Linked DNA regions of Homo sapiens: region 2 is linked to region 1. Evidence: fine-mapped expression QTL. Tissue or cell type: hippocampus. Region 1 holds a variant in brackets; the other region holds the start of a gene. All regions are shown on one strand. Distances are from middle to middle.

Evidence for each region. PIP is the estimated chance that this variant, and not a neighbour inherited with it, causes the effect.
Region 2: it holds the start of NGLY1, and the variant in region 1 is fine-mapped to the expression of NGLY1 in hippocampus (GTEx, PIP above 0.99). The same link has a PIP of 0.9 or more in pituitary and unexposed skin.

The regions. Positions count from the first base shown.
Region 1 is chr3:26,073,996-26,082,150 of GRCh38, reverse strand. It overlaps LOC105377001 (a long non-coding RNA gene), which reads right to left. Exons shown (of 3, transcript XR_940662.2): 3 at 1,429-1,562. Among named protein-coding and RNA genes, the nearest start is that of LINC00692, 200 kb to the right of the region's middle. The variant G/A (reference allele first, on the strand shown) is at 4,185.
Region 2 is chr3:25,779,049-25,787,135 of GRCh38, reverse strand. NGLY1 (N-glycanase 1) reads left to right here and starts at 3,693. Exons shown (of 12, transcript NM_018297.4): 1 at 3,693-3,876. The coding sequence starts at 3,746. RefSeq lists a silencer at 3,504-3,743 and enhancers at 4,054-4,103, 4,264-4,343, 5,731-5,900.

The sequences.
Region 1 (8,155 bases):
GAACTTCTACATAAAATAATACAGCAAAAATTGCTGCTGTAAACTACTAAGCAAAATTCCCCACTCCAGGCTTCTTTCTGCCCAAACAGAAGTTGAATCAATCCATGAATTGGGCCTTCACACTTATTTCCTCCCTCAGCCACAGCTCCTCCTCACTTGGCACCATTAGGATTCCATTTGCTTGCATAGACTAAATTATTCTGTGGTAAGAGGCTTCTCGATTTGTGTATTAAAATTTTACCTACATAGGTTGCTTTTAATTTGCAATTCAATACCAAATTACCCATTTTCTCTTATTTGTATTCCCAAGTCAATGACTACATAAAGAAAGTAGCTCCTAAATTCTTTTAAACACACGTTTAGAACTCACTAAATATTAAATGTTTATAAAAACAAAGACCACTGAAAACAGACCTCTAAGAAATAGACCTGACAAGAAATTGTGGCACCTGAAAGGTGAAAAACTGAGGGAATGACTGTATCTCATGAAGTTCAAAATGCAGACTTTTTTTTCCTGTTTACATCTCAGAAATTGAGCTATATCTTATAGTTGGACAGGCTACAATTATGATGTAGTTCTGATTGCTGGCACAGGTGTAAATTTTGGTCACAGATGTTCACAGTTGGCCCTTTGAGGAGCTGTGTGAATTGTTGGTCCTCTAGGGGCTGACTTTAAATGCTATTTAAAATGATTTTCTGCTTGCGTTAGGTTGCTAGGCCTGCCATAGGAAAATATCACTGACTGAATTGCTTAAACAACAGAAATTGATTTTCTCATGGTTCTGGAGGCTGGAAGTTCAAGATCAAGTTGCTGGCAGGGTTGGTTTCTCCTGGGGCCTCTCTCCTTGGCTTGCAGGTGGCCAGCTTCTCACTGTATCCTGTCTCTAACAGGGACACTGGAAGGTGGGAAGAGAGGAGAAACAACTTTTTTTTGTTTCCAGTTCCTATCAGCTTTGCTCAAATAACAGAGGACAGCTGCAGTTACAGCCTTCGGATTCTTTTGGCAGTTCTGGATCCAGCCATACAGTGTGCCCCTAGAGAGATGGCCAGCCATGCCCATGTCAGCCACATTGTAACCCCCTTAGAGGTTCAAACACCAGACTCACAGGGCCAAGCTCCTAGGTCAGTGAACCTATTTTTATTCTTTATCATGGTATCAGCAGTTACCATATCTAGGTAGCCTCAGCGTCCATTTACCATATCTAGGTAGGAACAGCGTCCTGCATAACCAGTTCCCTGTATCAAATTGTCTCTATTTGAAATACCTGGCGTGGTTTATCTTTTCATATCTGGACCCTAACGAATATAGTTTCTTAAATTAGATGAAATATAATACCTCAATAATATTTAAGTGCATCTAAATTATCTGCTTATCTTTAATTATAGAGTTTCAATAAACCTCATTATGTAGATACTTAACCTCAATTCTTCACTTCTTCAATTTGGAGCTTTAGAGTTATTTTCTGTGTTCTCTTTTTCATCTTTACAGTTTCACAATAAGAGATAATTGGCTTTGTATTGTCTTCGTGGCTTCTGAAAGCTTTATTCACTGAAAGCTTTATCTGTAAAAGGTAGACATAAACAAAGGAATATACACACAGTTTTGCCAAGTGTAAAATGCACCTGTTTTTTGTAACTTTTAGAAGAGATGATTTTGAAAATATTTATAACAGAATATTTTCATGGATAAAAATGTCCTGGGTAAATCCAGATGCCACTGAGGATGAAAAAGCTTCCTAGATTTGATTCCTAGATTCTCTTTCAGAAAGTTGTTAACATGTGAGTTCTGGTCTTTGCTCACTAGAAATCTCTAGATTTCATGTCTGATACTAGCACTACTACCACACATCTCTATGACCTTAGGTAAGCCGCTTTCTACTCTGACCTCTATTGTTGCCCCCAAGAAAAACAAAGGGTTGGACAAGATCAGGGAGTCAAACTCCTTTAATATTACATACATATTTTGTCCCGCAAATCCCATATTTTAAAATTTTTTATCCACTTATACTGCACTTAAGTTTGGATTTCTCAGTATTTATTAGTCATAGACACAAACAACTTTCAATTGGATATTTGGAATTTTAAGTTTCTTATTTTTAAATTCACTTCAACTTTTTCAAAATGTTGAACATTATTCACTGGGCTCCATTATCATGTTCCTGAGCAGCTCTGCAGATGTTCTGATCTATTATCATGTTCCTGAGCAGCTCTGCAGATGTTCTGCTCCATTATCATGTTCCTGAGCAGCTCTGAAGATGTTCTGATCCATTATCATGTTCCTGAGCAGCTCTGCAGATGTTCTGATCCATTATCATATTCCTGAGCAGCTCTGCAGATGTTCTGCTCCATTATCATGTTCCTGAGCGGCTCTGCAGATGTTCTGCTCCATTATCATGTTCCTGAGTGGTTCTGCAGATGTTCTGCTCCATTATCATGTTCCTGAGTGGTTCTGCAGATGTTCTGCTCCATTGTCATCTTCCTGAGCAGCTCTGCAGATGTTCTGGTCCATTATCATGTTCATGAGCAGCTCTGCAGATGTTCTCCCTCATTATCATGTTCCTGAGCAGCTCTGCAGATGTTCTCCCTCATTATCATGTTCCTGAGCAGCTCTGCAGATGTTCTGATGCATTATCATGTTCCTGAGCAGCTCTGCAGATGTTCTGCTTCATTATCATGTTCCTGAGCAGCTCTGCAGATGTTCTGCTTCATTATCATGTTCCTGAGCAGCTCTGCAGATGTTCTGCTTCATTATCATGTTCCTGAGCAGCTCTGCAGATGTTCTGGGACTGTAAATGCTGGTCACAGTAAAATCCACTTCCCTTAGCAATCAAAACTCTGCACTCTTATGTGAATTCCATGATTTGTGTCAGAGAAAGAGCTCCATTGCTAGAATTGTCATCCAAATATACATAAAGGGAGCCACAATAGAATGGGACAAAATGGACACAAGCATCTGTTTTTTCAGAATCACTTTATTGATCACTCCCCACAGAAGCTAAAGCCATCAAATGACTGCTTTTATTCCAAGACTCAATCATGCATGGAAAGACAAATGTTTGAGATTTTATGTGTTCATATAATCACAGAATTGAATGGAACTTCAATTAATTAATCCAACTAGATCTTTAACTTAAAACCATTTTTTTACAATGGCCCTGGACCAGTGATTGTCCAAACTGTGCCTGAATAAATTACACTGACAGGTATGTTTATAATTCAAACTATGCAGACACCCCTAAACCAGCATAATTTTTATTGCCTGAAACCAAGGGCTAGTATCCCTTTCATACTCCATTACTGACACAGGGAAGGAAGGTAGTCCTTAAATAATATCTAATGCTAAAGAAAAGCTCAGATCTACTCAACTAGCATTTACTGGATAGTTTTGCTTTAGCTCACCTACATGAGATGGAAGTCATCACACCCTATGTTTATCTGCACAGGCAGAGAAAAGGAGACAGCGAAAGCAATCATATGGATAATTCAGGTCAATGTGAAAATGCAGCTATTGAAGTAAAAGAGAATTCAGAGTTATCTGAATCACCCAGATTGCCATTTGTTTTGGTTACATTGAAATAACTGCTCACTCTCTACTTAATCTGTATATTCAATCTCTCCCATATGCCACATTCATTAGAAAGAACATTTAGGCTTCCTTTAGATGGTTTTTCCTCTTTTGCAACTTACATTTTTAGAAAAGATTTGTATCACCCATTATTCAAGTAATTATCAGTTTCTAGCAGACTTGTTGATTTTCTTAATTAAACTTAGCTAACAAATCATTAAAAAAAGAAAAATGCAACAGTTTTTCCTAGTCCAGTTAATTAACTATTTCTTATTTTATTCTAAGACTCCTAGACTAGAAAGTAAATTGTGCAAGAAGCAACAGTTCTAATTTTACTACTGTCATCTTATGCTCCTGGTTCCAGGTTGCCAAGAAAATAATTATCTTAGAATACTGCTATTTATTGAGAATAGCATAACCAGCTTATGTCTTAAGGCAGATGATAAAAGGAAGCCATAAAAGAGAAACAACTTTTGGAAGTTTCACAAAAGAGACATGCAGGCTTTCAGAAACATCTCAAATTATTTTGCAGTGGTAAAATTTGTTATAATGAATATTGGACTTTTTATCTCATCATACTGCCTCACTTACTTTCTGACTAGAAATTGAATACTGTTGC[G/A]GTTAAAATAAATCGTCTCCCTTTTCAAATATTTTCCTATGGTCAAAAGCCATTTCCTTTCTCATTTTCTTAAACAAATCATTCATTTCTCTGTAATATTTCTCAAAGAAATCTCGTTTATTCAATTTCATAGATACCAACCTACTCCTGGTCCTAATTCCTGCCCCGTGGGTGATCATAATAATCCCTACACTGCGCTCCCTGCCTCCAGTCTTTCCCTGAATACAGTATAGTTGTACTGTGGGCAGGGGGAAGAGTGCCTGGGTTTAAATCTCAGCTCCAGCTGAGTGACCTTTGGTATGCTACTTTACCCATCTATTCCTCAGTTTTTTCATCTCAAAAATGGGGGTAATAGCAGTACATACCTAATTGATCCTGGAACTGTTTACGCCCTTTCCGGCTCTGTATCATAGGAGTGCCTCCCCTATGATACAAGCTGAAAAGGGTATAAACTGCATTTCTCAGGGTCACATATCAACTGGCTTCCACTGGGATCAGCCAATGGGTGGCACTAATGGGAGAATGGAGGGTGGGGGGAAGGAAAAAGTTCAGGGGTCCCTCTCCTCCTTGAGCAGGCTCTCCTGCAGTAACTGTACTTTCTCCACAGCTCTCTTGGGGTAGGCCCACCAGGGTTCTAAACTAAACCAGGTGACACCCAGCTCTGACCTGCAACATGCTACTTCCCTTTGTCCTGCCACCCTAGGGGTGACAGCAGCTTCCTGGTGCTGCTCATCTAAGCTGCTTCAGCATCACTTGTTGGCTTCCCATCTGTTTTATCCCTGTTAGATAATTTCTTGCATTAACTCTCTTCTATTTAAATACTTGAAGTAGGGTTTTCCTCATTAGACCTGGTTAAACCCTGAGTAATCCAGTACTTCACTGTGTTTCTGAGAGGTTTAAATGAGTTAATACATAAAAATGCTGCAAACAGTACTTGGGATTTGATAGATATGAGTAATTATTAAATATTTTTACATATTATTGTTCCATTAAGTAACTAGAAATCCCCTATGCTTTACTCTTCTGGGGATAAAATTGAGTTCACATTAACATTAATATTCAAATTTCACAAGCTTAGTTACTTTACCTGCGAGAAATCAGAACGCTAAAAACCATTTTACCCCCTCAGTATTCTAGGGTCCCCAAAGGTGACTCACATATACCCACAAACAAGTTGACTTCTTCTTTGTAAAATCTGTAATTTAGCATAGTATCTAATATACACATTGTATTAGATTCCTAGGGCTGCCACAACAAAGTACTAAAAACTGAGTGGCTTGAAACCATAGAAATTCATTTTCTCATAGTCAGAAGTCTAAAATGCAGGAAGCTGGGAGTCCAAAATCAGTGTCAGGAGAACCATGCTTCCTCTGAAGTTTCTAAGGAAGAATCTGTCCTTACCTCTTCCTAGCGTCTGTAGTTCACCAGTGTATCTTAGCAAGTCTTGGCTTGTAGCTACATCACTCCAATCCCTGGCCCCATCATCACATGGCCTTCTCCCTGTGTGTGTCTGAATCTCCTGCTTATAAGCATACCAGTCATTGCATTAGGGCCCACCTAATCTTAATTTGATTACATCTGCAATAACCCTATTTCCAAGGAGGTCACAATCACAGGTAGAGGGGACTTCAGTATCTTTTGGGGGAAGACAATTCAACCCACAACACATATGTTTTGCTTTAGACATATGTCTTGTGTGACACTAATTATCATAAGATGCCTGACGCAAGCATGATCATATCCATTTTAGAATTGGAAAGGCTAAAGTTAGAGAAATTAAGGGAACTATCCAAAGTAATGTGGTTATTTTACAGTCAGAACTTGAATTCTGGTTTTAAGGATCAAGTTCACTTCCTTTCAAATTGTATCATTTAATACTTGAATTCAGTGAGAACACCAATTTTAGAATCTTGGGACTTGAGGTTTAGGTTCCTTAACCCCTTGAGGGTTGAGCTGCTCACATTGTGAGGGAACTGTAAAGTAACATACAAAGGGCATGGATAGAGGGAAGAGTGAATAATTGCCACCCTTATTGCAACTTTGCTGCCACAGGGGTAACTGATGAATAGTTTCCTTCTCCCAGCTAGCTTTAAGTCTCCCCAGCCTCAGAGGCTACCAGTATTAGGACCACAGAGCCATGAACATCTGAAGTTTATTGCCTCCCCTCTTTACCCAAAGAGTGATCATCCTGCAGTCCCTCAATACATTTTGAAACTTCTTATAATTCTGTAGCTGGCTTCCACATAAGGCTTGAGCCTATTCAAAAGGAAAGGGTCATCATTTTAGAAATATGGAAGTACTTGTAGAATGGAGAAACGTATAAATATTTTTACTGCAGCAGACGGAATCATTTACATTGAATCGTATTTCTCTTTTTGCAAGTTCTAATATTCTTCATATTTCAACAGGTTTAATTTTTCATTTTGACACTGATTCAACCTCCTCCTCAATAGCTTATATCTATAAAAGCATATTTTAGAAATCTCTGTGAGGGGTTCTCTTTGTTCTTTTAAAAAACACACATATTAATAGTTTTCCAATGAGTGTATTCATTTGCTTAGTTTTTCTCAGCAAACATTCTTTTTCTAGATTCCACTCCTTTGCATTTATTCATGATTACATTCATACATACTGGTATGTCATTGTTCCTCAATAAATGTTTATTCAATAAATAAATTAGCATGTGCATGAGCTTCATTAATTCTCCATCAATAATGCCCATAAATAAAAGGTTACATTGGTCTTGAAATGTGTTAGTATCCTCCCATAATGACCCTGAATTTGGCCATGTGAGTTGCTTGTGGTGGAAGTGCCAGTTCTAAACATATGCCTCAAAACACATTGAACACTGCTGCTTGCTATCTTGAGCCCCTGAATCCACTATGAAAACAAACCTGAACTAACCTACTGAAGGATGAGAGACTACATGGAGAAGAACTGTGTCATCCCAGCCAAGGCTGTTCTAGCAGCCCTCTGCTGACCTGATCACAGATGCAGAGAGAGGCTGAGCATAATCAAGCCCAATTTCAATCAGCAAAAGCACCAAGCTGATCCATGATGAGACACAGTAAATAGTTATGGTTTTAAGGCATTTAGTATGGGAGCTGTTTGTTATGCAGAAATAGTTATCTGATGCAAAGACCAGTGTGGCTGGATTGCAGGAAGCAAAATGTTGTGCTAGATGAAGCAGGAGGAATAGACAGGGAATAGTCGATGTAAAGCCATATATACAGTAGAGAAGATCTGTAGTCCCCCCAACACATTTACTCTTCTTAAAGCCCCAGATTTGTTGCTAGAGTCTGTGCTTTCCCCAGTCTCAGCCCACGTGGTTTGTTGTGAGGCAGAATCTAGGTAAAGCATGTGATCCAGCCCTTGACCCCTAAGTATATCCTATTCCCATAGCCATAGTACTGGTTCAGGGAAGAACACATGACCTAAGTTAGTCCAATCAAAGTGAATGGCAGGGCTTGGATTGAGACTGCTGGGGTAAGGGTTTATTCCCACAGCACACAAATCAGAGTTGCTGGTAGTTGTGTTATAGCCACAGGAAAAGATCTCATTTGAAAAGAATCAACATAAAAGAGTTAATAAGTAGAGAGAGGAAGCATATCTTTATTAAATCTTTTAAAGTCCTGTGTCTACTAAGCCTTATTAGATAGAATTACCCGATAACATTTCCTTTTTTTGCTTAAGTCAGCTTGAATTAGGTTGCTTGTTACTTATAATCAAAAGAGTCTGAACTTATCTGCATTAAGTAATTTTATCCTTATCCTAGGAACACTGGGAAGACATTGAAAGGCTTTAAGCAGGGGAAAGATGAGTACATTTTCACTTCAAAAAGATCCTTTGGCTACTGTGTGGGAGAGAAGTTCCAAGGCAGGTATTAGAAGCCAGTTAGGATGGTTTTTCAGGAGTACAGGTGAGAATAAATGGTAACTTAGACTAGGGTTGGGTAGAAATCAAGCCAACTT
Region 2 (8,087 bases), 290 kb after region 1:
TTTACTGTTAATCAAAATCACCTGAAGGGCTTGTTACCACACAGATTGCTGGGTCCCACCTTTAAATGTGGAGCTTCAGAATTTGTTTTTCTGACAAGTTTCCTGCTGATGCTGCTGTTGCTTGTCCAACCACTGCTCTAAACTTATGACTTCTATGAAAGTAGGGACCATACTTGTCTCCTTCACAGTGCTGAGCAACTAGTAGTCACTTCATAAATACATGATGAATGAATGAATTATGGAATGAATAAATCAACATTTATCCTTACATTTGATAGTACACATGCACTTTTTGTGCATTTCTCACCAAATGACTTTTGCGAAAACCAATGCCATAGCATTAATATTGTGATAACAATGTACAGTCCATAAAATCATGGAAATCACCATTTTAAAAAAATCATCTGAAATTTAAGTCCTTCCAAATAACTCTTTAGCAACACTTCTGTTAAAGTTCTTGAGTAACTGTAATCTCTTTTGAATATTGCCATTTATAAAGCTATTAAGGGAATCCATTATATAAAGGGACTTGGTCTCTCATTTTCCTGGCTGCTTCCCCCACTTCAGTCAAGTTGGAGATATTCTAATTCTTCCATTTCCTTTAGAAAAGCTGAATAAGCTACCCTAACTTTTATACCCATCGTTGTTTCAAACAACCAAAGAATGGGTACTAAATCAGCATTGAAATTCTTGTTCTTTTATTTATTTATTTTTGTTCCAAAATAAAGATTTTTTTTTTCCCCAGGATTTCACCTTTATTAAAAACATCATTTTTAGAGTTGACATATCATGGCGCTATTCTTTTTTTTTTTTGAGGTAGAGTCCCGCTCTGTCACCCAGGCTGGAGTGCAGTAGGGCAACCTCAGCTCACTGCAACCTCTGCCTCCTGGGTTCAAGCGATTCTCCTGCCTCTCAGCCTCCCAAGTAGCTGGGACTCCAGGTGTGCACTAACACGCCTGGCTAACACTATTCTTTAATAAAACAAAAAAGAAAGAACTCTGTAAATTTTCCCCACGATTGGTTTGGTGATATTAAAAAGTTAACCTCCATAAAAACCATTAGCAAGGGGAGGAGTTGAAGTCTTTCAGGAATTTGTATAGTGATTCACTATTGTGTGACTACATTGAGTGATTAACCAACAACTCTATTCAGTACCTGCTGTGTGCAAAGCAGTCTGAGACAGATGGCACAAGAGACTTTTAATCAAATAGGGAAGACAAAACTAATGATAACTTACAGTGAGATAGCGTTTTAGTTGAGGAAACAAACTATTATGAAGAGAAAAACAAAAGTCATTTTGTTCCCCCACAAAAGTACCCTATGACCATTCTATCTGTCAGGGGAAAGCCTTAGCTGACAGCTTTCTGCCCTTCACTTGACACCTCTGCTTCAATACCAGAGCATTTCCACTTTGGTGTTTTGTATATAGACAATCTTCCTATGTTTTTGTTTTTGTTTTTTTTTTGTAGAGATGGGGTCTTGCCATGTTGCCCAGGCTGGTCTTGAACTCCTGGGCTCAAGCGATCCACCTACCTCGGCCTCCCAAAGTATTGGGATTACAGGCGTGAGCCACCATGTCCAGCCCCTAAAATTTTATTTGAAAAAAAAAAAAAAGTTCTGTTGCATTTTTAAAAGTTACAAGTACTGTATAATATATACTATTCTCATATAATTAGTAAAGGATAAATAAATGTATCAATGGAAAAAGAAACCCAAATTAAGAGGAATAAAGTTTGTGATAGCTATATCTCCAGACCCAAGCCCCCAATCCATTGTGTAGTTGGACGAGACTACATTTCCCAGACTCTCCCCTTTTATCTTTTTATGTGTTTTTAAATTTTTTTTTTATTTTTTGTAAATCTGGCCTTACTGAAATACCCCCTTTTATCTTGATGAGGCCTCATTCTTAGTAATGATATGGTAGAGAAAATGCTGTGTGTCATTTCTGGGCTCATGTGGTTAAAAGTAGGTGTGACTTTTTTTTTTTTTTTTTTTTTTTTGTCCAAGCAGGCTGCCTGGATTTGTAAATAAAATTTCACTAGAACATAACCATGCCCATTTATTTTCAAGTATTGTCTGTGGAGCAACAGCTGCAGAGGCAGAGTTAAATAGTTGAGACAGACCTTATGGCTCACAAAGCCTAAAACACTATGTGGCCCTTTACAGAAAATGTTTCTTGACCCCTGTTCTAAGGTATGGAAGGAGACTGGGTCCACTGACATTATGACACCTGCATTATTAAAGTGTTATATGAGCCAGAAAGAAATTACTCTTGTGTTAAGCCCCTGAAAATTTTAGTTACAGACGGTAGTAACATACTACTATCTGTTGAACACACCATACTTGGAAGGTGGTCCAAAGATTTACATATTTATTAAAAGCGTACGTATATTTGGGAGACGAATAGTCATTGAACTGGATGTCATAGCTTAGGGTCTTGTTCGGAGATTCTGGAAGAAAATTTCAATTCTTAAAAGTAAACAGATGAAACATCAAGAAATTTAAAAGAGGTTATTCAGGCAAATCACTTATCTTAAGAAATAAAGTCAAGAAAAATACTTCGTGAGGTTGAAAAGGAATTTCTGCAAAGAAGGAAGCCACTGGTAAAGTACACTTTCAAGAACATGGTGGGGAAGAGACTGGATTAAAGTAGTAAGGGATGCATCTTCTAAGAGGAATAAAAGACCTTGATCACATGATCTACCTAAAAAACAAGTCACAAAATATTACTTACCCTTACTGTGTGGGATGCAAATTTTTATTCCCTTCCCGCCCCCGACATTCTATAATATTGCGTAATTATTATGCATGTGTTTTACGCTGGTCACCACGCGGTAAACCGAATCCACAACCCATTATTATGTCGCAACCTATGGTTTAAAAATACACTTCCTTACAGAGGAATCATATACTAGTTGAGCTGGAACTTAGATTTTCAGTCATTAGCCAAATTCTGAAAAGAATCCATATAACAAACCCAGCAGAGTTTATAGCCATGGTTTTGTTTTTGACGTTTGTTGCTCCTTCCTTCTGTAGTCTTTCATCCACATCTATGTAGAACGTCCTGACAATCTGCGAAGAGAAGGCTCTAAGGTGGTTTTATTTGTGGGGAAAGGAGGGAGGTACATGCGGTTTCTCCACCTTAATAGCTGGATCAATTAGGCTGGCCCCGGAGCGCAAAGGGATCCGGGTTTCTGAGAGGCACGTGCCAGCACCATTCGCCCGATACCTCTAGACCAAAGCCGGCCTCCCCTCCAGCCGAGCTCCTCCGTCCTAAAGGACTCGACATCCCCCTCCTCCAGGCCCACACCCCTCAGCCCCGGAGCCCAGGCCCCGCCTCTCCCTGCGGAACCCCTTCCCAACCTGTACGACCAGGCCCCAACTCTGGGTCGAAGCACCTCGCCCCTGCCGGCCGAGGCCCCCCACCTTCTTCCGAACAGCCCCTTGCCCCCCGCGAAGGGGCAGCCGTAGCTCCCAGCCGAGCTCCCCCGCTCCTGGCCCCGGTCCCCGACCCCGCCCCAGGCCCCCGACCCCGCCCCTGCCGGCCGAAGACCCCGCCCCTGCCGGCCGAGGACCCCGCCCCTGCCGGCCGAGGACCCCGCCCCTGCCGGCCGAGGACCCCGCCCCTGCCGGCCGAGGACCCCGCCCCTGCCGGTGGCTGCGGTAGCTGCTGCGCGCTGAGGCGCCTGCTCAGTGTGGGACGCGGAGAGCGAGGGGCGGCGGCGGCGCCCGCTGGCGCTCAAGCATGGCGGCGGCGGCATTGGGCAGCTCCTCAGGCTCGGCGTCCCCGGCCGTGGCTGAGCTCTGCCAGAACACCCCGGAGACCTTTTTGGAGGCCTCCAAGCTGCTGCTCACCTATGCTGACAACATCCTCAGGTGCAGGGCAACGGGGTCGGACGGCGGGTACCGGGGTGGGTGGGCCGCGGCACCTTGTTCGGCCAGGGACTGGGGCGTCCGGCCTGAGCTTCAGAGGGCAGCGACGCCCGGACAGACCGGGACCTGGAGCTGGTTCTGCTCCTAACGTCCGAGCCCGCCGGCCAGGGGCCTCGGGACCCGGCCAAGTCCCACCCCCGCTCGAGAAAAGGAAGTTTCTTTGCAGTTGTGACTTGGCACCTGCAGTCAGGGTGCTGCGGGTGAACTGGAGTCCCGGAAGCGGGGCCGGGCGGAGGAGAGGTAGGAAGGCGTGCTTCAGACACTGCCGCTCTTCTCGTCGTTTAACGGCCTCAGATATCGGGACACAACGGTAACCGCACCGCGCGTGTCATTCCCCCTGCGTGCATTTTTCGAGCGGAGTGGCTTACATTTCCACATACTTATCAGAAGTTACTCACTGACAAAGTGATGTTTTCTTCCCATGTTGAGACTATCCGAGTACTAAAGCATAATGCTTCTGAAGTGGTGGGTTTTAAAATTTTTAATTTTTTTTCTGCCCACTTTTGTTGATTGAAACATTATAGTATTTTGAAGTTACAGTTTTTATATTAATACCTGGATTCTACTATGTAACATAACCCTTTAAGAATTCGTGGAGGTAATCGCCTTGGATGAGAGTAATTTCCTTCATTCTCCTGTCAGCAAAATTGCACTTCTAGAGGTCTAAGGGACCTTGCAGATTTTGGGAATTGGGAGGCAAGTTTGATTATTCATTTTGAATAAGTACCCACCTCAACTCTTCAGATCAAATGATCTGAAGGGACATGGTGTGGGGGGGTAGGGAAATGGAACTGAGGTTAAAGGAGAGCCACTTGCTTTAGGGGTGTTACCTCATTTATCAGGTCACCGTGATTAATTAGGTTCTCTGTTCCCCTCAGCCCCTGGTGCATTAAGTGTTTGGTATATTGTCATGAAGTCTAAAAGGAAATTCTCAGTTTCAAGGTTATAGGTTTCACGTGACCCAATTTTAGACATTAGTTACATGTGCAGTTTTTAAAATCCATGTCAGTAATATTTCATTTAGGCAATGGTAATGATTTTTAAAGTAAATTGAAGGGAAAATATATTGAGCCCTTATTTTGTGGCAGATGCTATGAAAGATGCAACATGTGGCCTGTTCACAGCTACATAATTGTGACCTGTGTGGGGACCACCTTCGTGCTCTGTGACACCTTCTCAACTCACCTTTTTTACTCTTTGAGGCCTTACAGCTCTTCACAGTACAAGGATGCCAAGGGACTCCATAAATGAACTGATAGGCTGGGTTCTCCAGAGCCCATTAGCTGAGACTTACCACCTGGAAAGCCACCAGGCTATTTAAAACCCCACTAGTCAGAAAAGAGAGGTGGCCTTGTAATGAAGCCTCACTTCTGCTTTAAATCTAGTGAAACCCAAAATGCTGAGGTTTAGTATGAGGGGGAAACCTTTGCATGCAAATAATGACATTTAGCATCATAATCTTCATTATGAATGTTTACTAATGGCTCGTTGCTGATTTTCGTTTTTGAGACGGAGTTTGCTCTTGTTGATGAGGCTGGAGTGCAGTGGCGCGATCTTGACTCACTGCAACCTCCGCCTCACAGCTTCAAGATTCTGAAAGATGAGGGGTGTGACAATGAGCGCAAAGGATAGTGGACACACTGGAATAATGCTGAGAAATTAAGAGTTTAAGAAAGTCTTTGTGCGTTGCTTTTCCAAGGATAGGAAAGAGGATATGATGGGTTTGAAGTCTAATGTCCCTACAGCCCTCTAAGTCTTTGAGGGCTTTAGGGTCAGGCCTTTGGTATCAGTCTATACACAAAACCACGGTCAGTTTACTCAACATACTTAATAAGAAAAAGAATTTGAGGAACTGGATGTGACTGTCATTGCTGGAGCCTGTTTGCAGTATACTTTTACTGAGAAAAATAGATTAATGTGAGGTCCAGAGATGATATAAAAATAAAATTGCTCACTGGGCACGGTGGCTCACACCTGTAACCCCAGCACTGTGGGAGGCCAAGGTGGGCGGATTGCTTGAGCTTAGGAGTTTGAGACCAGCCTGGGCAACATGGCTAAACCCCGTCTCTACAAAAAAATTAAAAAATTAGCCAAGCGTGGTGGCAGACACCTGTAGTCCCAGCTACTTGGAGGGCAGAGGTGGGAGGATGGCTTGAGCCCATAATCATGCCACTGCATTCTAGCTTTGATGGCGAAGTGAGACCTTTCTCAAAAAAGAAAAAAAAAATGCTCACTAGAAACTAAAGAGGAAAATCTATATTGTATATCAATAGTTAAATGGTAACAACATATATCAAAATAACAAAGGCCAGTCGAAGTGGCTCCAACCTGTAGTACCAGGGCTTTAGGACACCCCAGGTAGAAGGATTGCAGCCGGGGCAACACAGTGAGACCCCATCTCTTAATAAAAAAAAAAAATAGCCAGGCGTGGTGGCTCACCTGTAGTCCTAGCTACTTCAGAGGCTGAGGCAGAGGATTGTTGAGCCCAGGAGTTCTAAGCAGCAATGAGCTTTGATGGCGTCATTGCACTCTAGCCGGGGTGACAGAGCAACACTTTGTTTTTTAAAAAACAAAACAAAAACTATATGAGAACTGATGTGTATTTTATAAGAATTTTTAAACAATTGTGAAAGCAGGAAGAAACTAGAAAATTAGCCCAGAGAAAGACCCAGCATGTAGAGATCTGAAAGCTGTGAGGAAAAGAATAGATTAAAATAGCTCAAGCAGTTTTGAACCAGTAGGATATATCATCCTGGTGGTACTGACATGTTTATCACCCTGTGAAATACATTGAGTGTCAGGAAAAGATGCCCCATTTATCGAAAACTAGCTTTGATAAATGTAGGATTATTTTATAGTTCAGTTTTCTTAAGTGATAAGAAAGAGAGGCTCACTTGTGAGACAGTGTAGCATGGAAGCCAGGAATGCGAATGTTCTGCAGTGCACAAGGAAACTCCACTGAGAAAAGGCCCCACATGTTAATGGTGCTGAGACTGAGAAACCCTAATCTAATACACAGAATAAAGAGTTGAGAATAAAATTTTCTTTGTATTTCACAACCATCTGTGATTCTCAAATTACATATAGTAAAGAACAATGTTTTTGTTTTAATTTCCAATCCCTTATGGACCTATAACTTTTGTAAAATACACTGAAAATTTCATGGCAATATCAAATTGCTGTATACCGAACATTCAATTTCTCTACTTCTTGCTTCATTTTTATGCACTTGTAAACAAACAAAGAAAAAATTTCTGTACTACTTGTGTATGGGTAACAAATAATTTGTAGATTAGCACCAATCTGTGGACATTTTGAATAGCAAAAAAAATAGAGCATTTGTCTCTGAATATTCTGTAATAAACATGATTTTTGAAATTAGGGAAAAGTTTAAAAACATTCATTTAGTATTTATGACACTTTGGCCAATAGGCAATTGACTGGTGAAAAACAAATGCAAAATTTGTTAAAACTTATAAAATTAAAATATTTGGTTTTTGGTTTTGTTTTTACGTCAGAATACCTAGAGAACATGTGTAGATAGGACAAAGTTGATAAGTCATTTGCTAGCATTTGCCTACTCACCATATCATACCCCAGGGCAGGTGGCTTCTTATGGAAGTACATCTTCCTATGGATCCCAGATACTGCCTCAGAATCCTCCTTAACATAGTACTTAAAGAAGTCACTATCACTTTAAGGCAGTTGGTGTCAGGTATGAAACTTATCATCCTAAACTATGTTCTGAGGGTCTTTTGAATATAATACTATGATTAGCTTAACCTTACATTCTTTTAATTTTTTTTAAACAATTCTGATTTATCAAAGTAATTAAAAATCTCAAACCAAAACTTTTCATGTGCTGGTTACTTGTCCCAAGTGTACTATTCAAAATCTTAATTATGGTAAAAGAAATTTATGTCTTCCTTTTATTGCCATACTGTCTGTGTCAAGAATATGTCTTGGGCCAGGTGCGGTGGCTCACGCCTGTAATCCCCAGCACTTTGGGAGGCTGAGGCGGGTGGATCACCTGAGGTCGAGAGTTCGAGACCAGCCTGGTCGACATGGTGAAACCCTGTCTCTACTTAAAAAATGCAAAATTAGCCAGGAGTGGTGGTGCACCCCTGTAATCCTAGCTACTTGGGAGGCTGAGG